Linked DNA regions of Homo sapiens: region 1 is linked to region 2. The links come from fine-mapping of genetic effects on gene expression. A gene starts in region 2. The other region holds a variant in brackets. All regions are shown on one strand. Distances are from middle to middle.

The links.
Region 1: its variant is fine-mapped to the expression of P2RX5-TAX1BP3 in whole blood (INTERVAL, PIP 0.95).

Annotation. Positions count from the first base shown.
Region 1 is chr17:3,665,985-3,680,381 of GRCh38, forward strand. It overlaps P2RX5 (purinergic receptor P2X 5), which reads right to left. Exons shown (of 12, transcript NM_002561.4): 11 at 13,606-13,800; 12 at 7,243-7,893. The coding sequence ends at 7,884. P2RX5-TAX1BP3 (P2RX5-TAX1BP3 readthrough (NMD candidate)) reads right to left here. Exons shown (of 15, transcript NR_037928.1): 11 at 13,606-13,800; 12 at 3,074-6,509. It overlaps TAX1BP3 (Tax1 binding protein 3), which reads right to left and starts at 2,594. Exons shown (of 4, transcript NM_014604.4): 1 at 2,504-2,594. The coding sequence starts at 2,542. It overlaps EMC6 (ER membrane protein complex subunit 6), which reads left to right and starts at 2,828. Exons shown (of 2, transcript NM_031298.4): 1 at 2,828-2,915; 2 at 3,114-3,681. The coding sequence starts at 3,163. The coding sequence ends at 3,495. RefSeq lists enhancers at 1,388-1,919, 1,920-2,450, 2,983-3,513, 3,514-4,044 and a silencer at 2,542-2,881. The variant C/T (reference allele first, on the strand shown) is at 7,868.
Region 2 is chr17:3,689,970-3,704,366 of GRCh38, forward strand. It overlaps P2RX5-TAX1BP3 (P2RX5-TAX1BP3 readthrough (NMD candidate)), which reads right to left and starts at 6,435. Exons shown (of 15, transcript NR_037928.1): 1 at 5,900-6,435; 2 at 1,675-1,825; 3 at 987-1,058; 4 at 636-711; 5 at 458-554; 6 at 101-181. It overlaps P2RX5 (purinergic receptor P2X 5), which reads right to left and starts at 6,186. Exons shown (of 12, transcript NM_002561.4): 1 at 5,900-6,186; 2 at 1,675-1,825; 3 at 987-1,058; 4 at 636-711; 5 at 458-554; 6 at 101-181. The coding sequence starts at 6,036. RefSeq lists enhancers at 3,787-3,836, 4,237-4,286, 5,257-5,773, 5,886-5,935 and silencers at 6,056-6,415, 12,293-12,493.

The DNA.
Region 1 (14,397 bases), 24 kb before region 2:
TTCCCACCATGCTCTGGGGTGTTCCCACCATGCTCTGGGGCTATGGTCCCCAACTGTGCCAGGTTCTTTTCAAAGCCCTTGGCAAGCGCCGTCCAGTCAGCAGATGCTGGGAGCCAGACCAGATCACTCCCAAAGTCAAGTTTTAACAGGAAGGAGAAAAGAAAAAAGCAGAAGACCACAATCTAGACTAGACCTAAAGAAGTTTCCCAAAGGGAGGATTATTTGCACCAGGCTTTGAGGGGGTGATGGGTAGCCTGACCTTGATCCTGAACCCACTGGAGTTCTCAGGAACGGAGTAGGGTAGGGCATGGTCAGGTTTGCTGCTAGAATGACCACTCAGGTAATCAGTAGAGGAACGGACATCTCACAAAAGCAAGGTGCAGAGGCCGGGGGACATGGAGCTACCTGAAAATGGAGATCTACAGACTTAGGGACCACTCATGGAGGAGAGGAGTCAAGAGGAGCACCCAGCCACCGTGCCTGGCTGAACACACATTATTCAGATGGGGACCCAGGAGGAGGAGGAGCAGGTTAGGTTGGAGTGCCAGGAGCTGCGGGGCAGGTGTCCAGAAGGCAGATGGATCTATGGAGCCAGGGTTCAGAAGAATGGCCTAAATGTCTTTAATATTCTCAGGATTCTACATGGGAGAGGGTGGGGACTGGGGAGTGAGCCTGCCCAAACCCATCCCCAATCCAAGACTCGAGGGAGAGGCCAGACCATACACACCATGTCCAGGCACGTTCCTGGTGTTACCAGAATTAGGGGGCATGGGCCTGCAGTTTTGGGGAAGGCCCTGGGACCAGTTATGGCGTGAGGGAGGGGGGCAGGAAGCATGAGGCCTACTGTGCCTGGGTCCTCATGCCCCAAACTGAGCTCCTCCAGGCCTGCTCTGCCGGCACGGTCAGAAGATTACAGGCCCTTGGGTTGGGAGACAGGGCTGTCACTGATTTGCTGGGTGAGGTCACGCAGAAGGTGGCTTGCTGTAGCTCCTCACCTGTCCCTGCCCCCCTTCTACCTAAAGAGCAAACCTGGTGCCTTCTCTCTGGGGCAGGTAGGGATCTAAAAAAGCCAGGCTGGGCCGGGTGTGGTGCCTCACGCCTGTAATCCCAGCACTTTGGGAGGCTGAGGCAGGTGGATCACCAGAGGTCAGGAGTTCAAGACAAGCCTGGCCAACATGGTGAAACCCCGTTCTACTAAAAATACAAAAATTAGCTGGGCATGCTGGTGCATGCCTGTAATCCCAGCTACTCGGGAGGCTGAGGCAGGAGAATCGCTTGAACCCAGGAGGCGGAGGTTGCAATGAACCGAGATCGCGCCACTGTACTCCAGCCTGGGCGACAGAGCAAGACTGTCTCAAAAAAAAAAAAAAAAAAAAAGTCAAGCTGGTGCAGGGAGGGTGAAGCTTAGGACAGCTGTCAGCTGGTCCAGCAATGTTTCCTCCTGGCCCAGGCCTGAGCCAGTGCTCTAAGCTCAGCCTCACTTGTCGCCTTTATCAGTGGCTTCTCTGCCTCCACCCACCTGATTGCTGGAGCTTCTCCAGCACACCCAACTGAGATAACACACCCAGTCCCTATGGCTCCAGGGCGGGGACTTTCGCTTGACCTACTGCCCACCGGGCAGGCATTTCTTCTCATTCTCTGAACGCTGTCGGGAGGTAGGCAGGAGACCTGAGTCTTTCCTGAGGTGGTCTTTTCTGGCTGAGCACTTCTCTCTGGGACTCCCCACCTCTGTCATAGGGTTGTGTCCCTCTGTGACACCGGCGTCTGAGTCTAACGTCCCAGCCTTCCTTCCTCCCTCTGCCTAGTCTAATAGCACCCAGCACCTAAAACAAGCCAGAGGGCGGCCAGGGGCCTAGGCTAGCCCCCGGAGGGTCTACTCAGGACTCAAGTGCCAGGAGGGAGGCCTGGACTTTTTTGCCTTAAGGGCTGGAGACCCAGGAAAAGTTCGAAGAGGAAACGCTCATCGCAGCTATACGAGCGTCCACCCTGGACCAGGCGGCGAGTGGGTTGGAGGAGCAAGGCTGGACAGGAAGGGGGCAGGGGCTGCCACGGCAGGCTCGGGAGAGCCCCACCCCCAGATCTCCCTCCGGGCGGCGGCGCAGGCTGCAGCGGAGGAAGCATTTCCTCATTCCAGAGGCTGCGACTCATGGACGTCGGGATCGGCGCCCGCCCCCAGCAGCTCCCCGTCTGGGGACACGGAGGCCCGGGAAGGGGGCGCTTTTCCAGGCTCCTGCAGCCAGGCCTTTCCCCGTGGCCCTCCCCGCCCTGCGCACGCAGTCTGGGCTCTGTCCAGGGTCTCGGGAGGCTCTCGGGTCCCGGCCATCCCTGTTTCGTGGCTGGGGGAACTGCGGCCCGCTCCGGCAAAGCGGGGACCCGAGCCCTTGCCGCCGGTTCGCAGGAGCCCCGGGTTCGATGCTCTGTCAACCTGCTTGGGGTGTCCGTTTCCCGCTCTGCGAGGTGGGGTCAGGCCAAGACGAGGAGGAGCCCGCGCAAGCGCACTCACCACCACGGCGGTGACCGGCTGGCCCGGGATGTAGGACATCTCGACCCTGCTCTGGTCGCCCAGCGCCGCTCCGAGAAGCCGGCAGCAGAGTACCCGCGGTCGCGCCCTCGCTGCTTAACAAAGGCCGCCCCGCTCGGCCCGCCCCCTCATGAATAGTTAACAAACCTCCAGCCAATCACTGGCCGGAGCGCCACTCCGCTTTCGGAAGTCCCTGCGCGTGCGCAGAAAAGCGGGCAGAGGGCGGAGCGTGTCCGGGGCGCCCACGGCGCAGGCGCGGAGGGCGGGGCGGGATCTGGGCGCGTGCGCAGCCCGAGACCTCCCGGCAGTCTTCCGAGCAAGATGGCGCCGCGGGCATTTCTTCCACTGCCCGTCTGAGGGAACGCTAAGTAGTGTGTCCGGCGCCGTGTTCCAGGTAACTGGGCCACCGTGGCCGGGGAACGCAGACGCGCCACCACCTCCCGGCCGGCCCGGACCCTCAATCTCCTCGGCGTCTTTGGAAGATCCGAGGCCCAGGACTGGTGCCAGGTCTCGGAAGCTCCAGGGGGAGGGGGCGGCGTGAACCCAACTCACCGAGCTCCGGGCGCCACTTGTAACTTGGTTTTCTCCGCAGCTCCGCGTTGTTCCGCGAGAAAGCGAGAGGCCGAGCCCGGGCTGGTGCGATGGCCGCGGTGGTGGCCAAGCGGGAAGGGCCGCCGTTCATCAGCGAGGCGGCCGTGCGGGGCAACGCCGCCGTCCTGGATTATTGCCGGACCTCGGTGTCAGCGCTGTCGGGGGCCACGGCCGGCATCCTCGGCCTCACCGGCCTCTACGGCTTCATCTTCTACCTGCTCGCCTCCGTCCTGCTCTCCCTGCTCCTCATTCTCAAGGCGGGAAGGAGGTGGAACAAATATTTCAAATCACGGAGACCTCTCTTTACAGGAGGCCTCATCGGGGGCCTCTTCACCTACGTCCTGTTCTGGACGTTCCTCTACGGCATGGTGCACGTCTACTGAAATGGGGGCCCGGGGGACTTTTTTAAAAAACCAGATCGGGAGGACTGTGGCCAGCAATTAACACCATGTAGACTTCCTTAGTTCTTAAGTGGTTGAATTCGCTGCTTGTTCTGTAACGTTATAAATAATTTATATCTGAAGACGGAGAGCCTGTAATATTCTTCAGATTAAATGAAGCGTGAGACACTTTGTGGAGTTCTTTCCTGCTGTAACGCTTAGGCTGCCACTGATGCAAAATCGCCGAGATTTGACTCCTGGAGAGCAAGGAATGGGCCATAGCCTTGTGTTAAGTCCTTGTATTTACACATAGGCCATTCAGAAACGGGCCCTAAGGGCCTACATAAGGAAAGAACTTATTAACATCCTAAGAAGCAGTAACAGTTAATATGTATTAAGAGCTCCCTGGGCCGGGCACGGTGGCTCATGTCTGTAATCCCAGCACTTTGGGAGGCCGAGGTGGGCGGATCACCTGAGGTCAGGAGTTCAAGACCAACCTGGCCAACATGGCAAAACTCCGTCTCTACTAAAAATATAAATATTAGCCGGGTGTGGTGGCGCGCGCCTGCAATGCCAGGTACTCGGGAGGCTGAGGAAAGAGAATCGCTTGAACCCTGGAGGCAGAGGTTGCAGCGAGCCGAGATCGTGCCACTGCATTCCAGCCTGGGTGATGGAGCAAGACTCCGTCTGTCTCTCAGGGAAAAAAAAAAAAAAAAGAGTTCCCTATATGCTGGCATTGTGACTTCTACTCTACACCGATCCTCTCATTTAATTTTAGCAATAACCTTACAGGGTAGATGTTATTGTTAGCTCCCTCGTAAGGAACCTGAGGCTCAGAGAGGTTAAATACTTCTCCCAGAGGAGATACAGCTAGGAAGAGACAGAGCCAGGATTCAAATGCAGGTCTCTTAATTTGCTCTTGATATGTTTGCTGGGTGTACCTTTCACAGGCCAGCGTTCCCTCCCACTAACCACTACTTTCAGGTATATATGGTGTCATTTTAGTTCCATTTCATTTAGTGACAGTCCTTTCCATAAGAAAAAATAAAGTCAAGCTGTATTTTTTAGAATATGTCTAGGGAAGATTAAACATTGTTTGGACATTTAGGCTGGGCACAGTGGCTCACGCCTGTAATCCTAGCACTTTGGGAGTCCGACGGCAGGCAGATCACCTGAGGTCAGGAGTTTGAGACAAGCCTGGCCAACATGGCGAAACCCCATCTCTACTAAAAATAAGATGCAAAAATTAGCCAGGCGTGGTGGTGGGCACCTGTAATCCCAGCTACTTGGGTGGCTGAGGTAGGAGAATCGCTTGAACCCTGGAGGTGGAGGTTGCAGTGAGCCAAGATCATACCACTGCACTCCAGCCTGGGTGACAGCAAGATTCCATCTCAAAAAAAACACAAAAATTGTTTGGACATTGAAGTTGAACTTTGGGCAGGTTTAGGGTGTAAACACCTCCATGTGTTAATCCATGATCCTTTCTTGTCAGGAGGGTTATTTTAGAATAAAACGCATTTGTGGCCGAGCACGGTGGCTCATGCCTGTAATCCCAGCACTTTGGGAGGCCGAGGTGGGCAGATCACCTGAGGTCAGGAGTTCGAGACCAGCCTGACCAACATGGAGAAACCCCATCTCTACTAAAAATACAAAATTAGCCGGGTGTGGTGGCACAGGCCTGTAATCCCAGCTACTAGGAAGGCTGAGGCAGGAGAATCTCTTGAACCTGGGAGGCAGAGGTTGCGGTGAGCCGAGATCATGCCATTGCACTCCGGCCTGGGCAACAAGAGCGAAACTCCCTCTCAAAAAAAAAAGAATAAAATGCATTTGTTTAATTGAGGAATAAATATTGCATTAGAATGACGGTAATTGCCTGAGTGTAGTGGCTCCTGCTGTGATCTCAGCACTTTGGGAGGCCAAGGCTTGAGCCCAGGAGATCAAGACCAGCCTGGGCAACATAGTGAGATGCCCATCTCTACAAAAAAACATTTAATTAGCCAGATGTGGTGGCATGTGCCTGTAGTCCCAGCTACTCAGGAGGCTGAGGTGGGAGGATCAGGATCACCTGGGCCCGGGAGGTTGAGGCCACAGTAAGCCACGATTTTGCCACTACACTCCAACCTAGGCAACAGCGAGACCCTGTCTAAAAAAAAAAGAAATTACAGTAATGAAAATGATGGTGCTCATTGGATTTATGGTTAACTGGGGAAACCAGCATCACCTAACTTCAGAAATACTTAAATCATGGTGAGTACTATGAAGAGGACATAGCAGACCTAGCCCAAGTTGGGGTATATGGAGGTCAAGGAAGTCTTCTCTGAGGAAATAACATTACATCTGAAACCCAAAAGTTGAATAACATAGGCAAGTGTGGGGAAGGAGTTACCTTCAGGAAAGCGCATGTTTCCAGGCCATTGGGCAGGAAGGAATGTGACTGTATTTAGAGAGTGAGAGAAGAGGCCACAGGGTAGACCCAGACCAGATCATGGAGGGCAGTAATGGGTGTGGGGACATGCGCCTGTAGTCCAGCTACTCAGGAGGCTGGAATGGGAAGATCAAGATCACTTGAGCCCAGGAGGTTGAGGCTGCAGTGAGCTCCCATTTGCCCTGGCCTTGATCCTCAGAGCAAATGGGGGAAGCCTTTGGAAGTTTTTAGTCTGAAGTGACGTAATCACATTTGGATTTTTTTTAAAAAAAGAATCTGTTTTAGATTGGAAGGGGATCTGAGAGCTTGAATCCAAGTCCCCTTTTGACAGATCATAGATAGCCCATGGCCAGTCATGGAAATGGATCTGGGACCCAGACCTGTTAAATTCCGTTTCGGCTTCAGGAACACATGCACACGACGCCAAGGAGAAGCTGAGGCCATAGCGTTGCCCCCCATCTCAGTGAGCCCTTTCTCTGCCCCCACTGAAGATCCTCAGTGGTTTGCCCACCTCAGTCCTCTCAGAACCTCCTCTGAGTGGGAAGGAAAGGTTCATTCCTGGTGTAAGGGAGAAGCAGAGGGAGTCCTCAGCCTGGTGGGAGAGGAGAAAAAAGGAAGAGGGATAAGCGAGCTGATGTACTTAACCATTTCCCTATTGTTGGGCAGTAAGTTTGAAATGTTCACTACTATAAAAAATACTGCAATGAATGTCTGCGTTTATATTGTTTTGAGAAAATTAATAAGTTCCTACAGCAGAGGATAAAAATTTGGTTCCAAGTTACTTCCAGAGTTGTGTTAGATTACACTACTTGAATGAAAAGTACCAGTTTTATCAGTTCCTTCCTAGTCTATAATTTTAATAGTTGCTCATTTAAAGCATTTCCATAATTTGAATTTCTTTGCAAGATGAGGAATATATTGCTTACTAATTGTTTCTTGTGTCTGCCTCTTTTGATCTTGCCTTCTTACATTTTCCTTTAAAATACGGGTAAAAATGGGCCAGGTGCGGTGGCTGTTGCCTGTAATCCCAGTACTTTGGGAGGCTGAGGTGGGCGGATCACAAGGTCAGGAGTTCAAGACCAGCCTGACCAACATGGTGAAACCCCGTCTCTACTAAAAATACAAAAAAAATTAGCCGTGCATGGTGGTGCACGCCTGTAATCCCCGCTACTCAGGAGGCTGAGGCAGAAGAATCACTTGAGCCTGGGAGGCAGAAGCTGCAATGAGCCGAGGTCGTGCCACTGCACTCCAGCCTGGGCTACAGAGCGAGACTCCATCTCAAAAAAAAAGATGGGTAAACATGAAGAGAAAAAAATCAGGACACGTTTGAAATTGACACCATTTATTGTTTTATGACCAAATAAGAGTGTCAGAGAATACATATCTTGGGCAGGTCCCAGAAAGCGTCTGCCATCTCCCCCACTTTAATTCTGTGTACTGGCCTAAGGGCAAACAGCTGGCAGGAAGGTGGTGTCTTTAGGAGAGAGAGTACTTGGATCCACTGGAGAGTATGCTCTGAGGGAAGCTGCGGCACTTGCAGAGGGGAGTGGGCTGGAACCAAATGGAGCCCTTTTCCGGACACGCACAATGCTATTCCCAGTGAGGTAATCTAGGAACTCTACAGGGCACTGCGGTCCTTAGCTGAGGTGCTCAAGGACTCCGGAAGGAAGTCATGTTCCCCATTTACAACCCGTTCCCTAGTGCGGGAAGCCAGCCACGGAGAAAGGAAGAACTGACGGCAGGGGGTGGGGCAAAAAGACAGCCATGATGGGTCCGTCCTGATGACCCCAGCATCAGACGTGGAGGTCACTTTGCTCTGTGATGGCTGGTCCCTGTGATGTGGCATTGATAGCACCCAATGTACAAATTTCCCGTTGGGCAGCATCCTGGGATTCCCAAAGGCATGGGATCACTGGGTGCTAGACGGCTGGGTTTAGGACAGGGCCTGAA[C/T]GTAAGCAGAGGCAATTCACGTGCTCCTGGAATATCAGAACAGAAAGGAGCTCTTGAGAGGCTGGCACTCTCATCTTCCCAGTGAGGCAACCAGTGCCCAGGGAGAAGGGCCTTCCCAAGTCTGAAAAGAGCTACAGTTCATGCTTCACTTCTCCCCATTTAAAAGCCAGTTTCCGGCCAGGCGCGGTGGCTCATGCCCATGCCTGTAATCGCAGCACTTTGGGAGGCCGAGGTGGGCGGATCACGAGGTCAGGAGATCGAGACCATCCTGATTAACACAGTGAAACCCCGTCTCTACTAAAAATACAAAAAATTAGCCGGGCGAGGCGAGCGCCTGTAGTCCCAGCTACTCGGGAGGCTCAGGCAGGGGAATGGCGTGAACCCGGGAGGCGGAGCTTGCAGTGAGCCGAGATCGCGCCACGGCACTCCCATCCAGCCTGGGCGATAAAGCGAGACTCCGTCTCAAAAAATTAAAAAAAAAAAATACAAAAAAAAAAGCCAGTTTCCATCAGAGTAATGAGCTCCCACTCTTGCACCAAGATTATGCAGAAAAATGGTGGGAGCTGGGGGCTGTGCAAAAAGCAAGGAAACTGGAAGAGTGTGACACTGTCTGGAAGCTGTCAGGCGATCCCTGGCTCTTCTGAGCACGGGGCCCCTGATGGGCAGTCAAGAGGTCACTGGAAGGCTTGGCCGGCCTTGAAGAAACAATGAGGTTAAATCCTCTAAGGAAGCAAAGTCTAAAGGGGCAACCTTGCAGCTAAAGACCGTCAACTTCATTAAACAAAAGCCTCACCAAACCTGGCTCCTGTCTGCCGCCTTCACCCAGGTTCTCCGTTGCTCCTTCCCATATCAAAGCGTCTCTTCACACCTGTGCTTCTCTTACCTGGAATGCTTCCCCCTCACCTAGTTAGGCTGCTATAACCTTTCAGATTTCAACTCATAGGTCACTTCCTTGGGGAAACCTTCTCTGGCTACTACTCGCTGACCTCTCCGACACCCCATTCCGTCTGTGATGACGGGTGTGATCATTTGGTAAGGGTTCAATGCCCCATTAGACTGGAAACCCTCGGGGGCAGGGATCGTGTCTGTGTTGCTCATCTCTGTCTCAGCAGCATCTGGTCCAACACCTGACATGTCACAGGGACTCCATAAATATTTCCTGGCTGAAGGAATGACTAACTGTAGGAAGACATTTTCCTTTTTCTAGAGACGGAGTCTCGCTCCGTCGCCCAGGCTGGAGTGCAGTGGCACGATCTTGGATCACTGCAACCTCCGTCTCCCGGGTTCAAGCAATTCTCCTGCCTCAGCCTCCTGAGTAGCTGGGACTACAAGTGCACGCCGCCACGCCCAGCTATTTTTTTGTATTTTAGTAGAGACAGGGTTTCACCATGTTGCCCAGGCTGTTCTCAAACTCCTGAACTCAGGCAATCTGCCCGCCTCGGCCTCCCAAAGTGCTAGGATTACAGGCGTGAGCCACCGTGCCCGGCTAGGAAGACATTTTTGTTGCAATATGAAACAAATAGTATGACTATCCTCAGGTTCTGTGGCTTCTGCCAGCCATTTCGAAGTCTGGTTAAAATCAGCAGCCATGACCCCTGCCTTTTTTGCTTCCTCCCAAACCTAAAAGTCACCAAGTTATAAAAATGCAAGGCTTTGCGTCAGTGAAGAAGTGACACACCTAAGTGGATCACCTGGATCTTCACTTTCTTTTTTTTTTTTTGAGACTGAGTCTCACTGTCGCCCAGGCCAGAGTGCAGTGGTATGATCTCAGCTCACTGCAACCTCTGCCTCCCAGGTTCAAGCGATTCTCCTGCCTCCGCCTCCCGAGTAGCTGGGACTACAGGCATGTGGACACCATGCCCGGCTAATTTTTGTATTTTTAGTAGAGATGGGGTTTTGCCATATTGGCCAGGCTGGTCTCGAACTCCTGACCTCGTGATCCACCCGCCTCGGCCTCCCAAAGTGCTGGGATTACAGGTGTGAGCCACTGCGCCCAGCCTGGATCTTTACTTTCTAATCAGAGAGCAGTATAGGCTTGTTGCAGGTTCCCTTCCCAGAAAACCCAAAGCGAGGAAGTTGCTTTGCTCTAGGAGGGTTCCTGTTCTGGAGACCATGTCCCTGGGCCCCTGACATCCCTCTCCAAAGCCTCAGTGGAGGGATGCTCTCACCACCCCCGCCTTTCTGTGTGCAGAGAGAACCCCTCCAAAGAGGATGCTTCCAGGGAGCCGCCCAGACAGCACTGGGACTGGTTGAGTGAGGGCGGCGCTGGAGCACTTTTCTGCCAGGTGGCTCGGGCAATGGCGAGGGCTGAGCTCCAGGTTTCTCACCTTGGGTTTACGGGGAGACAACTCACATACAACGGGGTAGGAGAAGAGAGCTAGTCAGCTCCCAAGCCCAACATCGAAACGTACTTCATGTCCATTTTTGACAGGGGAGACTGGGTCTTAAGCGCCAGCGTCAGGAGAAGTTCATTACCTGAGTGAATGTGTAAGAAACCACACGAGTTTTCGGCAAAATCAGGGAGCCTCCTGCATTAGTAACACTGGCTGCCTCTGGGGAACCGGGAGGACGGAGGTTGCTTTTCACTGACTATCCTTTGCACCTTCTAAACTTTGAATCATGTAAGTATTACCCAGTCAAAATATTGTAACTTAAATCAGCTGAGCATACTGCTGCTTTCAGGGTGGGGGAGGAAGCCTCTTGGTCTCTAGGCAGCATGCGTGTAAGTCTGACCTAGAAATTGGCTCCATCCACCAAAGCTGGCCTTTTTCCCCTGAGAACCAGGGCTTCTTAAATGTCACTGTGCACACAGATCACCTTGGAATCTTGTTGAAACACAGGTTCTGATTTGGGTGGGGGGCGGGGGAGCTGGGACCTGCATTTCTAGCAGGCTCCGGTCCCTGGACCCCACTTTAAATAGCAAGGCTTGGCCGGGTTTGGTGGCTCACGCATGTAATCCCAGCACTTTGGGAGGCCAAGGCTGGCGGATCACCTGAAGTCAGGAGTTGGAGACCAGCCTGGCCAACATGGTGAAACCCCATCTCTGCTAAAACTACAAAAATTAGCCGGGCATGGTGGTGGGCACCTGTAATCCCAGCTACTTAGGAGGCTGAGACAGGAGAATCGATTGAACCTGGGAGGCGGAGGTTCCAGTAAGCCAAGATCACGCCACTGCACTCCAGCCTGGGTGACAGAGCGAGACTCTATTTCAAAAAAATAAATAAATAAAAAGCAAGGCCCTACAGCGATGGAGGCAGAGAGCAGCTGAGGGTGCGGTAGGTGGGTGTGGCCGTGGCATAAGACAGGTGGGGACGGAGGGAGGGGAATGAGGGCCTCCCTAACTCAGCCCGTTTACACCTGCTGAGTGGCGCCATCCTTGATCTCATTAGCACTTCAGGCCCAGCCTCTGAGGAGGGGTGGGGAGGGCAGGAGCTCGGCAGGGTCAAGGCGACTGTATCTCCCATCTGGGCAGGTCCATATTCCCCGGGCGTCCCGAGGCTGGTGGAGTCAGATGGAGCAGAGGCCTCTTGCCTCCCCTTCCCCATCTTACCTAGACTCCCCAGGAGCTGGCTTCCCCACTAAGAGCCAGCTGCCTCCTGACTGCTCCAGTCCTTTCCTGGTTGCCTCCATGGCCACCTTTAAATTTTATCCTTGGGGCAAGCCCAAATGTCCCCTTGGGTGTTGTCCAAGAGCTTTCTCTGAGCAACCATCATTCTCGGCAGGGATTTCGGAAACCCTGCTAGAGGCTAGAGGAAGGCCAGCTGGAGTGGCTGGGCCTGGCTGTGATGTCTCTGTTGGCTTTGGAGGAATTACACGCGGGCCCCTCTCCCTGAGGTTAGGTCAGCATCTCATTTAAGCACCTCTTGGTGGGCCCAGCACACAGCATGCGTCAATACATGTTTACAGCTCATATGAATGAGTGAAGGTGCAGCCAGGTTGAGGGAAAATCCAAACACTCCACTTCCGCTCAGCACCCTGGCCTGTCCCTTTCCCTGGACACCTGCTCCAGGGACTCCTCTTCTAGGTCCGAGCCCCTCTGACCATTGGGAGGCTCCCCTCCTCACTCAGCAAAAAGCTTGCAGCAAGATCCCAAAGTTCAGGAGAGATGGCTGTGCCTGGAAGCCCCTGTCTCATGCAGGCACAGACTCCTCTACCCAGTTCAGAGCTGCGGGTTGTTCTGGCCCCAAAGTTTTCAGCGACACTGCTGGTAGCCAGCAGCCCTGGCTACATCTCCACTGTCTGCAGCTGCTCCAAATTCACCTGTGCATTCTGCAAATGGCCAGACCTGTGTGTGGGCGGGAGGGGGCGCACAGGGCAGAGAGGACTGTCGGGAGCCGGTGGGTGGGCCAGCCTCACCAGAGGCAGCAACGCTCCTGGCAGCACTGCAGGCAGGCAGAGCATTCAGAGAGAGCACAGCCTGCCAGGGTTCCTGCGGAAGCCCAGCACGCATAGATGCTCAGGCAGAAGCCTCTGGAGTTGCCCCGGCAAGGAGTAGCAGCAATTGCGGTGGCAGCTGGAGCGTGGGCCTGTGAGTCCACAGCCTCCCACAAGCCTCAGCGAGGCTCAGCCAAGACAAGCCAGGCCGTCGGGCTTCCCGCTTGCTCAGAATGGGAGCTCAAGTGAGCACCCAGGAAGTAAGAGTCAGCTCAGGGAGCACAGGAGGGCTGCCAGGCTCTGGGTCTACCCCATACGGACCCCTAGCCTCCAGCCTCCTTGCCCCACTGCTGCAGCCCCTGCCTCTCTCTCTCCTCACTCTTCTCCAGCCCAGTCTATTTCTTGCTCCTTCCCTGCCCAGGCCCAGCTCCCAGCTGAACGCTGCCAATTCCTGAGTCAGCAAGGAATGAAAGCTGGGCCAGGAGAAAGGCCACCAAGGTCAGTGAGTACCTGGGGTGTGGTTTGCAAGAGAGTCACAGAACCCCAGTCTGACAGCAGGAGGTGTCCAGCCCCCACTGGGAGGGGAAAAAAGGGAAAACAAGGCACAGAAAGGGCCAGGCACCTGCTCACCGCACAGGTACTCTGCAAGGCAGACGCAGAGCAGGCCCGAGACAGGTCCCCCACCCAGCCAGACGCCCTCCCCACGCAGGCTGAGCCTCGTCTGCAGAGAAGCCAGCGCCCCCAGGAATCGCGGCCCAAGGACCCCCCTGGCAGCACGGCCAGCACCCTCCTGAGGCCGGGGCAGCCCCAGAATCGCACACAGAAGAGGGGCTGAGGGGGGGTCATCTGAGCACAGAGACGTTCGGCAAAGGCAGAGTAACTCAGGAGAACCTCATCCTACAGACACTGCCGGGATTCAAATCTCAGCGCTGCCATTCACCGGCTGTGTGACTTGAGCAAATTACCGAGCCTTTCTGTGCCTCAGCTTCCTCATTTGTAAAATGGGGAAGATCGGTGTCTATCTGATTCAGTTGCTTACATGAGTTAACAAATACGGAGAGTACAGAGGGGTTCCAGGCAGAGAGTCAGTGCTGTGGAGCAGCGCGCTGTTATCATCTGAGCGCCGGCATGGCACAGCAGGCACCCATGGCCATCCAGGGTCTCGGGAGCTAAGGGGGACCTTGCGGGGTAAAGCACCAGCCCCTTCCCACAGAGGCTCTCCCAGTTCCTAGATGTCCTGCCTTGTGGCCAGCTCACACCAGAGCAGAGGGGTCCGCTGGAGCTGCCAGGCATGAGAAGCCCCAACTGGGGACCCCTCTCTGCAGGACCCAGCTGTCGGGCTCTCTGCCTAGCAGTGGCCTCACCTGTGGGGCTCCAGGAGCTGTGGGCACACAGATCCGTTCCCCTTCTGACTGCTGCTTCCACGCTTCGCCTCGGGTGGCTCCTGCAGCTCCTGCTGCTCCGGCATCCCCAGCAGCCCTGGCCCAGATGTGAGCTGCTCAGATAGCCCCAGCCCCGATGCCTCGTCCTCGGCCTCCTGGGAACTGTCTTCTAGGCCCCTGGACAAGATACAAGCTGTTCACCTGGGACGGCCCTGCAGGGTGCCTCCCCTCCTAGACGGGCGGAGTGGGCCTTGAAGAATCCCTCGCCCTGCAGGCCGCCACCCTGCTTCCTCCAGCCGGTGTCCTCCACCCTGCTTCCTCCATGCGGCTCCCTCCACCCTGCATCCTCCACCCTGCTCTCTCCACCCTGAGTCCTCCACCCTGCTTCCTCCACGTGGCGTCCTCCACCCTGAGTCCTCCACCCAGCTCCCTCCACCCTACATCCTCCACCCTGCATCCTCCACCTGGCTTCCTCCATCCTACGTCCTCCACCCAGCGTCCTCCACCCTGCATCCTCCACCCTGCATCCTCCACCCTGAGTCCTCCATCCGGTGTCCTCCACCCTGCATCCTCCACCCTGCGTCCTCCACCCTGCATCCTCCACCCTGCATCCTCCACCCTGCGTCCTCCACCCAGCGTCCTCCACCCTGCATCCTCCACCCAGTGTCCTCCACCCTGCATCCTCCACCCAGTGTCCTCCACCCTGCATCCTCCACCCTGCATCCTCCACCCTGCGTCCTCCACCCAGTGTCCTCCACCCTGCGTCCTCCACCC
Region 2 (14,397 bases):
GCGCGCACACACACCCCCAGGCAGAGACCCACGGAGGGCCAGCCAAGGCCCCTCATCGACCAAGGCCCACCCGTGGCCCCCAGTAGCCAAGCCCACGTACTTGGAGAAGTTGAATTTGGGGAAACGGATGTGGTTCTTTATGAAAATGGTGAAGTCTTCGGCCTCCTTCAGGAATGGCTCCCTGAAAACCAACCCAGAACAGCCTGTCCAGGAGGCCCCACCCCTGTGCCCCTCCCCCAGGCCTGGGCCAGTGTGAGGCCTGTTCCTTGGGTCCCCTGGAGCCTCTGCCCAGGACAGTTAATTTGCTCATGCTGGGGAGGCCGTCGGGCCTCGCTGGGACAGCCTGACTCCTCCCTCAGCGTGAGGCTCCCAGAGTGGGCAGGACTCCACCCTCAGGCTGGGACCCACCGCACGGGGCTGGGAAACCCCTCAGGGTCCTGAGGCTGCAGCCACTCACTCCGGCCTGGAGCTTGTCTCCAACGGGCACCAGGCAAAGATCTCACAGGTGCCCCTGGCCAAGTTCTCTCTCCGCAGGCAGCGGCCGGTCTTCACTCCTGCAGGGGTGGGACAGGATCAATGCCAGGAGCCTCCCACTCCGAGTCCTCCTTCAGCCCGTGGCCGCTCCAGGCCCTCACCGTTTCCAGCTGTAACCGCTTCCCCAGCGTGGCAGTCGCTGTCCTTGGAGCACGCGCCATCAGGAATGCCTTCATTCTGCCAGGAGAGAAGGGGCACCTGGATGGGGGGGTTCCCCCAGCTCAGAGCCGGGTCCCACTCCAGGAGATAGAATAGGGGTTCTTCTTCGGCCTGGCCCACACACACTCTGAGAACCTACTTCTCCCCCATATAATGCAGGAACCACACCCGGGTGCACACAGCCACCCGAGACCCTTGGAGTGGACAGACACCCTTGCTTCAGAAGAGAGTAGACCCCAACCACTGCCGGTGGCTCTCCCACCCCCACGCCAGGGCCCCTCGCCAAATCAAACCTCAGCACAGACGTTCTGCCGCTGGTTGGGGGTCACAATCAGGTTGGTGACCACAAAAAAGACGTTCTCTCCCTAAGGAACCAGAGAGGCACTGAGGAACCTCCTCCTGCCCCTTAGGGACCACCCCACCTTTCCAGCGTTACCTGAAAGAGGGCGGTCCCTCTGCCTGGGTTTTGGGGATAATGGGGCCACAAACTTGGTATACTCTGCCCATCTGCTCATGGACCCCACAGTCCCCAGGTAGATGTCCATTGATAGATCTCCTCCAGACTCACAAACCCCAACTGCCCCAGGATCCGGGAGAAGTGGGCGCAGGGCTCAGGCTGCCCTGGCCCTGGCCAACTGTGAACAGGCTGGAGAGCTATTCCCAGAGGCAGTGACTTAGAAGGGGGGTTCTCTGTGCCAGCCCACCTGACTCACAATGACCTGAAAGTTCTCTGGGTCCCATTTGTTCTCAGCAGACTCAGATAGAACAGAGCAGTCACCCGCGGCACAGTCAAAGAGGGCAGGGGTTTGGCATGGGAGGTAGGATCTGGACAGGGTTGCTCTCTGCAAGCCCTGGCAGCTGTCTTGGGCCAAGAGAGATGATGGATGGGGGTCCCTGCGTATCCAAGAAGCTTCCCGTGTGACCCACCCGAACCAGGCAGTCCCTGCCAGCCTTGGCCGTGTGCTAGGTGGGGACTCAGACCTGGGCTGGAATGACGTAGTCGGCGACATCCCAGATCCGCTGCCCAAGATCCGAGGTGTTGGTGAAGGCCACGCCCTTGACTTTGGTGATGACAGCACTCTGCAGGGAGGTGTCGACGTCTTGGTAACCCTTCTTTATCAGGAACACCCATCTGTGGGAAGGGGGCCGGTACGTGGGCATCAGCCACTCTGCTGGCTTCGGGGAGCTTCCCCAGGCCTTGGGGTGGGGTAGCAGTCACAGCAACTCCTAGTTGAGGTGGAGCAGGCTCAGGGCTCCACCTGTCCCACCAGCTCCTGGGCAGGGGCCACAGCTCCCACTGCTGACTGAAACCCAGTCCTGCAAGCAGCAGAGGCGACAAGCAACCCTAGAGATGGGGGCCCTGAAGAGGCAAAGACCAGCCGGGCGCAGTGGCTCACGCCTATAATCCGAGGCAGGCAGATCGCAAGGTCAGGAGATTGAGACCATCCTGGCTAACACAGTGAAACCCTGTCTCTACTCAAAAAAAAAAAAAAAAATACAAAAAATTAGCCAGGCGTGGTGGTGGGCGCCTGTAGTCCCAGCTACTCAGGAGGCTGAGGCAGGAGAATGGCGTGAACCCGGGAGGCAGAGCTTGCAGTAAGCAGAGATCGCACCACTGCACTCCAGCCTGGGCGACAGAGTGAGATTCTGTCTCAAAAAATAAATAAATAAATAAATAAAAGAGGCAAAGACCACTGTCCACTCAGAGGCCCCAAGTGGACAAGCCTGGGCTGAAGCCACATACTGGTTTGGTGACCCCAGGCAAGCCAATTTCCCATACATAACATGGGGTGACAGCGCCTCCCTCTGGGGTTGTGATGGTGCCTAACCTGAAACCAATCACGAGGAGACCTCAAACAAACCCAAACTGAGGGGCATTCTACAAAATAAGAGTACAGGCCAGGCACGGTGGCTCGCGCCTGTACTCCTAGCACTTTGGGAGACCAAGGCAGGAGGATCGCTTGAGCCCAGGAGTTTGAGACCAGCCGGGGCAACACAGTGAGACCCCATCTCTATGAAAAACAAAAAAGTAATCTAGGCATGGTGGCACCAGCCTGTCGTCCCAGCTACTCGGGAGGCTGAGGTGGGAGGATCCCTCGAGCCTGGGAGGTCGAGGCTGCAGTGAGCCATGATTGTGCCCAGGTGACAGGGTGAGACCCAGCCTCAAAAACAACAACAAAAAAATGAAATAAGAGTACAAATCCCATACTTGTTGACACTAAAAACGCAAGCAATAAAAGAAAAAATAGGTAAGTTGGACTTCATAAAAATTTAAAATGTTCATGCATCAAAAGACACTCTCAAGAAAGTGAAAAGACAACCCACAGAATGGGAGAAAACATTTGAAATAATGTAGCTGGTAAGGGTTTAGTATCCAGAAGATACAAAAAACTCTTATAATTTAACAATAAAAAGCCAAATAATCCAATTTAAAAATGAGCAAAGGATTTGAATAGACATTTCTCAAAAAAAAAAAAAAAAAAGAGAGAGAGAGATACACAAATGCCCAATTAAGCATATGAAAAGATGACAAACACCATTGGTCATTAGGGAAATACAAATCAAAACCACAATAAAACACCACTTCACTTCCACTAGGATGGCTATCATTTTTTAAAAACCCTACAGATAACAGGTGTTGATGAGGTTGTGAAGAAATTAGAACCCCCGTATATCACTGATAGGGATGTAAAATGAGGTAGTTATGGTAGAAAACAGTTTAGCAGTTCCTCAAAAGGTTAAGGATCGAGTTACCAGATAAGCCAGAAAATTCCCAAGAGATTGAGAACATGGCCAGGCACAGTGGCTCCCGCCTGTCATCCCAGCACTTTGGGAGGCCAAGGCAGGTGGATCACCTGAGGTCAGGAGTTCGAGGCCAGCCTGACCAACATGGTGAAACTCCGTGTCTACTAAAAAAATACAAAAATTAGCCAGGCATGGTGGCCCATGCCTGTAATCCCAGTTAATCCAGAGGCTGAGGCAGGAGAATCTCTTGAACCCAGGAGGCAGAGGTTGTAGTGAGCTGAGATCATGCCATTGCACTCCAGCCTGGGCAACAAGAGCGAAACTCCATCTCAAAAATAATAATAATAATAATTAAAAATTGAAAAATTGAAAACATGTTCACAAAAAACTTGTACATGAATGTTCTCAGAAGCATTCTTCTTCTTTTTTTTTTTTTGAGACAGTCTTGCTCTGCTGCCCAGGCTGCTGGAGTGCACTGGTGCGAGTAGCTGAGATTACATGCGCTCGCCACCACACCCAGCCAATTTTTGAATTTTTAGTAGAGACGGGGTTTTACCACGTTGGTCAGGCTAGCCTTGAACTCCTGACCTCAAGTGATCCAGCCACCGCGGTCTCCTCTCCCAAAGTGCTGGGGTTACAGGCATGAGCCACTACACTCAGCGGTGTGAAAACCACCCAAATGTCCATCAGCTGATGAATGCATGACCACAATGTGGCAGCCCCACACGGCAGGATAGTATCAGCCACAGAGAGGAATGGAGGGCTGATAGATGCCACAACATGGGTGAACCTTGAAAACATGACACCAAGTGAAAGAAGCCAGAAAAAAAAAAAAAAAGGCCGCATACTATACAATTTCATTTATACGAAATACCCAGAATAGGCAAATCCATAGAGACAGATTCTCCTGCCTCAGCCTCCCGATTAGCTGGGATTACAGGCGCCACTATCATGCCCAGCTAATTGTTGTGTATTTTTAGTAGAAACAGGGTTTCTCCATGTTGGCCAGGCTGGTCTCGAACTCCTGACCTCAGGTGATCCACCCACCTCGGCTTCCCAAAGGGCTGGGATTATAGGCATGAGCCACAGCGCCCGGCCGCCAATTTCCTAATTTTCATACTTGTACTTAGTTAAATATGTCCTGCTTTCCCTGCCATGTGAGGACACAGCGAGAGGGTGGCCATCTGCAAGCCAAGGAGAGAGCCCCCCCTGAGACCCCGAACCATGCTACCACCCTCGTCTCAGATTTCCACATCCAGGACTGCGAGAATTAAATTTCTATTGTTCAAGCAAAAGCAACTCCATTTATTCATTCATGCGTTCATTTCACATCTATTCCCTAAGCAGTTAAGTGCTGCTGGGGCCCCACCCTCAGGGCATTCCCGGACTGACAGCGACATCAGGCAAATGATCCCCCAAATAAGCCCAATAATTACACTGTGGGAAGGCCAGGGAGGAAGGGAGAGGGAGTTACTGGAAAGCCCAGATCTGGGGGCTGAGTGGATGCTAAGGGAGTGGAGGAGGACGGGCAGGCCTGGCTGAGCAACAGCACAGCGCCTACGAGGCCGCTCAGGTGGGAGGCGGCCAGGGGCCTGGGGATGCAGCTCAGAGAACGCGGACTGCTGGACCTCCGAGGGAGAGCCAGGCGTCAGGGCTGCCCTCCCAGGAGGAAGCAGGAGGAACTCCACCGCATTTACTGAACGAGTGGAATGAGGCGCATCCCCATTGTCCAGCGCTGCTTCTCCCCTCCACCTGCTCACCCCCGACCCACCCCGGGGTCAGGGCTCTGAAGGCGCCTGGCAGAGCAGCCTCCACAAGTTGCCTCTTTGGCTTTGTGGCGCCAGCTCCTGCCAGGTGGCATGAGGATGGGGGAAGGGGATGGCCGAGCTGGGTGCAGAGATAGAGGCCTCTGGGCAGGACCCCCAGCTGGACACCAGAGAGGCTGGCCGCGGGTGGGGCAAGTTGACCGGAAGGGAGCTCAGGAACATGCCGGGCTGATGAGTTTCTCCAGCTCTGAGTAGGCAGTGACACCCTGTGATTATAAATAACCTGCCGGCGCCTGGGTCAGCTGCCAGGCCAAGGCCCAGGGAGGCTCCTGGGGCGACAGCTGCCACCCAGCCCCCTGGCATCCCTGCCCCCTTCCCATGGCCCTAACACGTGGGGACCCGACTCTGGGAGAAGCAGCTGCAGGGAAAGCCTGATAAATCGAGGAAACCAGAAGGCCCCTGCCCACCTCTCATCACCTCTAGCGCCAGTGGGGGAGTGGAGAGCCCCCTCTCTACACCCTACTCCTACACCCAAGGACCCAAAGAGGACCCCCACAGCAAGCAGGCTCACAGACCCCCAGCTACCGGGAAAACCGCGTGCACGCCTGCGAATTCCAGGACCCTGGAGAAGGACGCGGCGGCTGGCACCCGCCCTGCCCCTCCCCCGCCTTCCCAAAAGTCCGCGGAGAACTTACACGACCAGGTACGCCAGGATGGAGGCCTGCAGCAGCCGGTACAGCAGGCCCACCTTCTTGTTCTTGGCGATGACATACTTCTCGGTCTTGTAGTCGAACAGCGACAGGCAGAGCCCCTTGCAGCCCGCCTGCCCCATGGCGCGCTCTCAGCCGGGCTTGCGGACCGCCCGGCCCACGTGCGCTCATGGGGAGCACTCGGTCCCTCGGTCCCTGCGCGCCCGGCGCCCGCCTCGGCCCGTCTGCGCCCGCTCAGCTGCAGCCCGGGGTGTCCGGCAGGGCTGCGGGGCGCGGGGGCGGGTCGGGGCGGCCTTTTATTGACGCGGTTGAGAAAGCCTCGGCTGGGAGCTGGGCGGCGGCGAGCACCGGAACCTCAGACCGCGACCTTGCCGCTACCTCTTCTTCCTCCTCCTCCTCCTCCTCCCCTGACACAGTGACACCCCTGCAACCTACTCCCCAGCCACCGGTCTGGGAGCGCAGCCCCCCGGATGCGCAGGACCGCCCTGTGCTGTTGCCCAGCTGAAAGCAGCGATCGCGGAGGAGAGGAAGTGAAAGGGGGAAGGGCTCCTTTTTATTTTATTTTAAATTTATTTATTCATTTATTTTTGAGACGGAGCCTCGCTCTGTCGCCGAGGCTGGAGTGCAGTGGTGCGATCTCAGCTCACTGCTACCTCCGCCTCCCGGGTTCAAGCGATTCTCCTGCCTCAGCCTCCCAAGTAGCTGGGACTACAGGCGTGATAATTTTTGTATTTTTAGTAGAGACGGGGTTTCACCATGTTGGCCAGGCTGGTCTTGAACTCCTGACCTCAGGTGATCCGCCCACCTCGGCCTCCCAAAGTGCTGGGATTACAGGCGTGAGCCACCGCGCACGGCCGGGAAGAGCTCCGTTTAAAGCAAAACTCCCCTTTCTCTCGCAAAGAAATCCCAAAGGGTTCTTCCTATTGAATAGATGGGGAACTGAGGCCAGGGGAGGAAGGAAGGGGACACAACAGGTTTCTCCATTCACCTCGCGCCAGGTCTCCTGCCAGGGAGATACATTCTTGCTCCGTGGGCAGGGGGTGGTTGTGGGGGGGAAGCCGTGGCTCCCCCACAGGCTGGAAGAGACAAGACTTGTCCCACCTGAGGCTGCCTGTGTCTGCTGCGACTAATGCGCGTTTCTACTGCAGCAGCTGCTGCAGGTTTAAAAGCCCACACTCCGGCGGAGTCGGTGGTCAGGCAGGTCCCGAGTGCCGGCAGCATGAAGACCTCCCTCCCACACTCAGGGCGGATGGTGCGGGGGTGGGGGGCAGACGGGGTGGGGGCGGGGAGACACAGGCAACCCACCCTAGGATCCTAAAAATATGCCTGGAGAGTGCGCATGTACCAACTGTTTGGAATGGTTCCCAACGCACAAGAAATAGAACTGATCCATGCAGCTATGACTGCAACCCTCTCAGTATGTGGAATTCAACAGGAGTGGGAGTGGGATGAGGGAGGGCCTCCGGGGGGGCAGGTTTAGAACTCCTGACAGCCAAAGACGCAGGGCCCTGGGTGAGCGCGGTGTGGTGAGGAGCTGCGCACGCTTATTTTCTGCATCCTGCAGTCTGACCACAAGCAGTCCTGCTCCTCTCCCTACCCCTGGCTTTCACACACAAAGAGGCTCCCTTCCCTAAGCCACAGACTCGGGGAACTGGAAGGTACCCTGAAATTCATCAGTGTGATTCTAAAGTAAAAGCCCCAAGGAAGGTGTCCAGTTTCAAAGTGCATGGGAATCATGTGGAAGAAAAAAAGGCAAATTCCTAGGCCCTGCCCCTCAAATTTTCATTCACGAAATCTAAGATGGGGCTGGGAACCTGTATTTTGCTCTCAAACTGTCATTTGGGAAAGCGTGGATCTTTGCATCTTTTCATCCATTTCAACTCAACTGCCATTTCTTCAAAAAGGCCTGTTATTATTGCCCACCCAAAGTAGCCCCCAGTCCCAGCCCAGCCACTTTCTATCCCATTATCTCATCTTATTCCCTTAGAGCACCTGTCACTATCCAGTAGGATCTCGTTGACTTAGTGACTGTGTCCCATGCTAAGACCAGAAGCTCCCGGAGAGCAGGGACCATGCCTTTGGACATCTCTGTATGTCCCTGTGCCTGCCACATAATAGTTCTAGACATATTATTGAATGAGTGGACAAACCTGGCCCTGATTTTTTTTTTTTTCAACAGGGAGGGCATTTCGATTCCACCCTGCCCCAGTCATGACTGCGAATTTTAGGGGCTGAAGTCATCTTGGCTCTCCTGCCAGCCTCCTCCTCAGCCCCCTGCTAACACAGCACTCCAATGCTCACTAAAGCAGCCGCCACCGAGTGACATCACCCCTAAGAAGATGCCCGTCACCCTGACAGTGCTGCTCCAGGGTAAGGTATAGAGGGGAGGTGGACTTTCAGAGTCTCACAGGAGTCGCCTGAATTGCATCTGCCCTGGAGAAGAGCTTGCCCATCAACCCCAGCACAGGACAACATGAGTGTCACAGAGATGGTGCCACATTGAGTCTCTCCACTCCCCAAGGGAGTTCCAGGTTTTGTTCCAGGGCCTGTTTGTTCTTTGAAGGGGTCTTTAGAGACCAGGACCTTCATTTTTCTGGGGTGATTAGGGAAGGGGTGAGTAAGTGAGGCCCCAGAGCAGAGCCTACCACTAGCCCCAGTCCCAGGCACTCTGCTGTTCTTGATTCATCAAACCTTTGTGTGCTACTGGAGAGGCTGAACTGCCAGGCACTTGCCCTCCATGTCCTGTCTTAACTGCCACTGTGGCTTTAGAGAAGGGCTCTGCTCTGACTTCCCCTCCAGTACAGGCAGCCCCTCCTGAACTCCCCACGGCACAGCCAAGACCAGGCTGCAACTTCTGACGGAACTGTCCTGAAGCTTTAGAGACCACATGAGGGGCATCTAGAGGGGACAGGGCTCTCGGGGACAGGACCAGGCCCATCCTTACGGGGTCCCTTACTGCACAGCTTCAGAGACTAGATCCAGACCCACTGGTGAGGCATGACATCAAATTACTGGGCGACAACCAGCATTAAAAAAAATAGGTTGGGCACAGGCGCTCATGCCTGTAATCCCAGCACTTTGGGAGGCTGAAGCAGCAGAACCGCTTGAGCCCAGGAGTTCAAGACCAGCCTGGGCAACATAGCAAAACTTTGTCTATATATATAGACAGACACACACACACACACACACACACACACACACACACACACACCTATATATATAACTAGCCAAGTCAGGCACAGTGGCTCATGCCTTTAATCCTAGCACCTTGGGAGGCCAAGGCAGGAGGATTGCTTGAGCCCAGGAGTTCAAGACCAGCCTGGGCAACATAGGGAGACCCCTTCTATACAAAAAATAAAAAATTAGCTGGATGTGGTCGTGCACACTTGTGGTCCCAGCTGCTTGGGAGGCTGAGGCAGGAGGATCACCTGAGCCCAGGTGGGTTGAGGCTGCAGTGAGCCATTATTGCACCACTGCACTCCAGCCTGTATGATAGAGACCCTGCTTCTTAAAAAAAATTGACCAGGTGGGATGGTGCACACCTGTAGTCCTAGCTGCTCAGGAGGCTGAGGTAGGAGGATCTCTTGAGCCTGGGAGTTCAACACTGTAGTGAGCAATTATCGCAAATAAATAGAAAATATTGCCGGATGCAGTGGCTCACACCTGTCATCCCAGCAGTTTGGGAGGCCGAGGCAGGTAGATCACGAGGTCAAAAGTTTGAGACCAGCCTAACCAACATGGTGAAACCCCCTCTCTATGAAAAATACAAAAATTAGCCAGGCCTGGTGGCACACGCCTATAGTCCCAGCTACTCAGGAGGCTGAGACAGGAGAATCGCTTGAACCCAGGAGGTGGAGCTTGCAGTGAGCCAAGATCGCGCCACTGCACTCCAGCCTGGGTGACAGAGTGATACTCCATCTAAGAAAGAAAGAAAGAGAGAAAGAGAGAGAGAGAGAGAAAGAAAAAGAAAAAAGAAAGAAAGAAAGAAAGAAAGGAAGGAAGGAAGGAAGGAAGGAAGGAAGGAAGGAAGGAAGGAAAGAAAGAAAGAAAGAAAGAAAGAAAGAAAGAAAGAAAGAAAGAAAGAAAGAAAGAAAATTAGTGTATTTAAGGAAGTATTGGTGTTATGTGAAACTTTTGTTTTAAGTGTCCACATATGGCATTGTGATGTGGAATATACTTCTTCCTGTGGGTCACAGTCCAAATAATGTGGAAAACACTTACAAGCTGTGGCCCCCAGTATCTGCATTCTATCTCCCCATGGCTGAGGCCAACTCACCACCCTCACAAGCACATGCCAAACACCCATTGTGCCCAGTGGGGAGATGAGGACTTTGCTTTTTACACCTGCCTTATTAAAAGTCCAAGTCAGGGCCGGGCAGTGTGGCTCACGCCTGTAATCCCAGCACTTTAGGAGGCCGAGGCAGGCAGATCACGAGGTCAGAAGTTTGAGACCAGCCTGACCAACATGGTGAAACCCCCTCTCTATGAAAAATACAAAAATTAGCCGGGCCTGGTGGCACGCGCCTATAGTCCCAGCTACTTGGGAGGCTGAGGCAGGAGAATCGCTTGAACTCGGGAGGCGGAGCTTGCAGTAAGCCGAGACTGTGCCACTGCACTCCAGCCTGGGCGACAGAGTGAGACTCTGGCTCGAAAAAAAAAAAAAAAATTCCAAGTCAGGGACATTTCCAAAACCAAGATGAATTCTCCAACTGAGAGAAAAATGCCTGCTGCTTTCGAGTGATACAGTTTGGATGTGTGTTCCTCCAAATCGCATGTTGAAATGTGACCTCCCATGTTGGAGGGGGCCTAGTGGGCGGTGTAGGGTCATAGATGTGGCTTCTTTATGAATGGCTTGGCACTATCTCCCGGATAATGAGTGAATTCTCACTCTGGTAGTTCACGCGAGAGCTAGTTGTTTAAAAGAACCTGGTACCTCCTCCTCTCTCTCCTGCTGCCTCTCATCCTGTGACATGCCAGCTCCTCCTCTGTCTTCCACCATGATTGGAAGCTTCCTGAGGCCTCCCCAGAAACTCCCCTCACCCCAGCCAGGGGCCCAGGGCGAATGGCTGGTGTTCAGAGCAGTCACAACCCCCTCACTGCCTCACCACGGCCCCCCTCCTTCTCCTCCCTCACAGGAGTCCACATCACGCTTCCCTGTAATGAGTATAATCCCTTCCTGTTCACCTGAAATAAAGGACGGGATGAGCAGTGACTGTTGTTCCGTTGTTGTCTGATTTACAAGCCTTTGTCTAGTTCAAGCTTGTCCAACCCTAGGCACAAGGACGGCTTTGAATGTGGCTCAACACAAATTCACAAACTTTGTTAAAACGTTGTGAGGTTTTTTTTGCAATTTTTTGTTTTTTTTAGCTCATCAGCTATTGTTAGTGTGAGTGTATTTACGTGTGGCCCAAGACAATTCTTTTTCCAATGTGACCCAGGGAAGTCAAAAGATTGGACACCTCTGGTCTAGTTGGATGATTTAAGGTACCTGCAGTGAAGTGATGAGAACTATAAAATGAACTTCTAAGTCCGGGCGTGATGGCTCACGCCTGTAATCCCAGCACTTTGGGAGGCCAAGGTGGGCGGATCACCTGAGGTCAGGAGTTCGAGACCAGCCTGAACAATATGGAGAAACCCCGTCTCTACTAAAAATACAAAATTAGCCCGTCATGGTGGCGCATGCCTGTAATCCCAGCTACTTGGGAGGCTGAGGCAGGAGAATCACTTGAACCCAGGAAGCAGAGGTTGTGATGAGCAGAGTTCACACCATTGCACACTCCAGCCTGGGCAGCAAGAGTGAAACTCTGTCTCAGAAAAAAAAAAAAAAAAAAAAAAAGGAACTTCTAAAGGGACATTTTCTCTGTTTTTTTTTTTTTTGTTTTTTTTTTTTAAGACAGAGTCTTGCTCTGTCTCCGAGGCTGGAGTGCAGTGGTGCAATCTCAGCTCACTGCAACCTCTGCCTCCCCGGCTCAAGTGATTCTCCTGCCTCAGCCTCCCAAATAGCTGGGACTACAGGCACACACCACCATGCCCGGCGGTGAGTAATTTTTTTGTGTGTAATTTTTTCGTATTTTTAGTAGAGACGGAGTTTCACCATGTTGGTTAGGCTGGTCTCGAACTCCTGGCCTCAAGTGATCCACCCACCTGGGCCTCCCAAAGTGCTGGTGAGAGATCAAGCCAGCTGGACTTCCTGGGTCGAGTGAAGACTTGGAGAGCTTTTCTGTCTAGGTAAAGGATTGTAAATGCACCAATCAGCACTCTGTAAAAACGCACCAATCAGTACTCTGTGTCTAGCTAAAGGATTGTAAATGCACCAATCAGCACTGTGTAAAAATGCACCAATCAGTGCTTTGTGTCTAGCTAAAGGATTGTAGACACACCAATCAGCCCTCTGTAAAAGCGCACCAATCAGCATTCTATGTCTAGCTAAAGATTGTAAACGCACCAACCAGCACTCTGTAAAATGGACCAATCAGCGCTCTGTAAAATGGACCAATCAGCGCTCTATAAAATGGACCAGTCAGCAGGATGTGGGTGGGGCCAAATAATGGAATAAAAGCTGGCCACCCAAGCCAGCAGTGGCAACCTGCTGGAGTCCTCTTCCACGTTGTGGAAGTTTTGTTCTTTCCCTCTTCACAATAAATCTTGCTGCTGCTCACTCTTTGGATCCACACTACCTTGATAAGCTGTAACACTCACTGCGAAGGTCTGAAGCTTCACTCCTGAAGTCAGCGAGACCATGAACCCACTGGAAGGAAGAAACTCTGGACACATCTGAACATCAGAACATCAGAAGGAACAAACTCCAGACACACCATCTTTAAGAACTGTAACACTCACCACGAGGGTCCATGGCTTCATGCTTGAAGTCAGCGAGACCAAGAACCCACCGGAAGGAACCAGTTCCAGACACATTGGGACTATATGCGTGAGCCACTGTACCCAGCCTGCCATTTTCTTTTTACATCATCTCCCTTGCTCCTAAGACTTGCCAGCATTTTAAAGTCTATTATTGTGGTCTGGACCCACTCTGGGACATCCTGGTCTGCTCTGAGACCTGGGACAGTCTCTGATAAAATCCTGGTGGACTCCCAAATGTATCCAGTAAAAGCTACGAGGGAGCCTCAGACAGAGCCCTCCCCTCCTCCAAAGAAATGTGCTGGGGGCCTCACCTGGGGGAAACCAGACTCTCCTGCCTCTGATCCCAAGCTTTCCCCACACCAGTATCTGTTCCTTCTACACATTTTATAGATGAAAAGCGAGAATGTATGGTGCAATGGGCTGAGCCTTTAGAGACAGGGGAATTACTCCTCAAATAGAAAAACTCAACAACAAACGAGGCCAGGCCCAGTGGCTCACACCTACAATCCCAACACTTTGGGAGGCTGAGGTGAGAGGATCACTTGACCCCAGGAGTTAGAGACCAGCGTGGACAACGAAGTGAGACTCTTGTTTCTACCTAAAAAAACAAAACAAAACAAAAAACATTAAAAAATTAGCTGGGCATGGTGGCAAGTACCTGTGGTCCCAGCTCCTTGGGAGGCTGAGGTGGGAAGATTGCTTGAGCCCAGGAGATTGAGGCTGCAGTGAGCTGAGATCATGGCACTGCACTTCAGCCTGGGTGACACAGAGGGATACTTTAAAAAAAAAGAAAAAGAAAACTCCTCATTTCCCTATGGGATGAAGTGCTTCCAAGAGGAAAAATGTCAGCTGCAGGAGAGTTGCCAACAGCATCACTGTTCCCAGCAGCAGCTTGGAGGTGTCCCTTGGTCACCCCTGCAGCCTCTGAAGACACGTGGGTTCTCTCTTCCCCTCCAGCTCTGGTGAGGGTGAAATAACACCTCCCCCTTAGCCTGAGATTCCAACAAACCCAAAAAACATTCCCCACAAAATTAAAGGAAACAAAACAGAAAATAAACAACATTTAAAAACCCCAGCCGGGCATGGTGGCTCACGCCTGTAATCCCAGCACTTTGGGAGGCCGAGGTGGGTGGATCACCTGAGGTCAGGAGTTCGAGACCAGCCTGACCAACATGGAGAAACCCCATCTCTACTAAAAATACAAAAAAGTAGCCGGACGTGGTGGCACATGCCTGTAATCCCAGCTACTCGGGAGGCTGAGGCAGGAGAATTGCTTGAACCCAGGAGGCAGAGGTTGTGGTGAGCTGAGATGACGCCATTGCACTCCAGCCTCGGCAACAAGAGCAAAACTCTGCCTCAAAAAAACAAACAAACAAAACCCAAAAAACCACACAAAACCCAAATCCCATAAAATCATATGGTTCTTGGAGTAGAGGTTCAGATGTTACTTCCTTATGGTGAATTCTATTTCCCACCTCAAAGGAGCAGGAAGGCCTGGAAGGAGGAGATTTGAATCTCTCCTGGGGCACAGAAGGTCATTCCGCGATAAGGGGGCCAGCTGCAGACCCAGCCTTCCTGCCGAGTCCTGAGGAGCTGGGTGGCCCAGAGAGACAAGAGTGGGC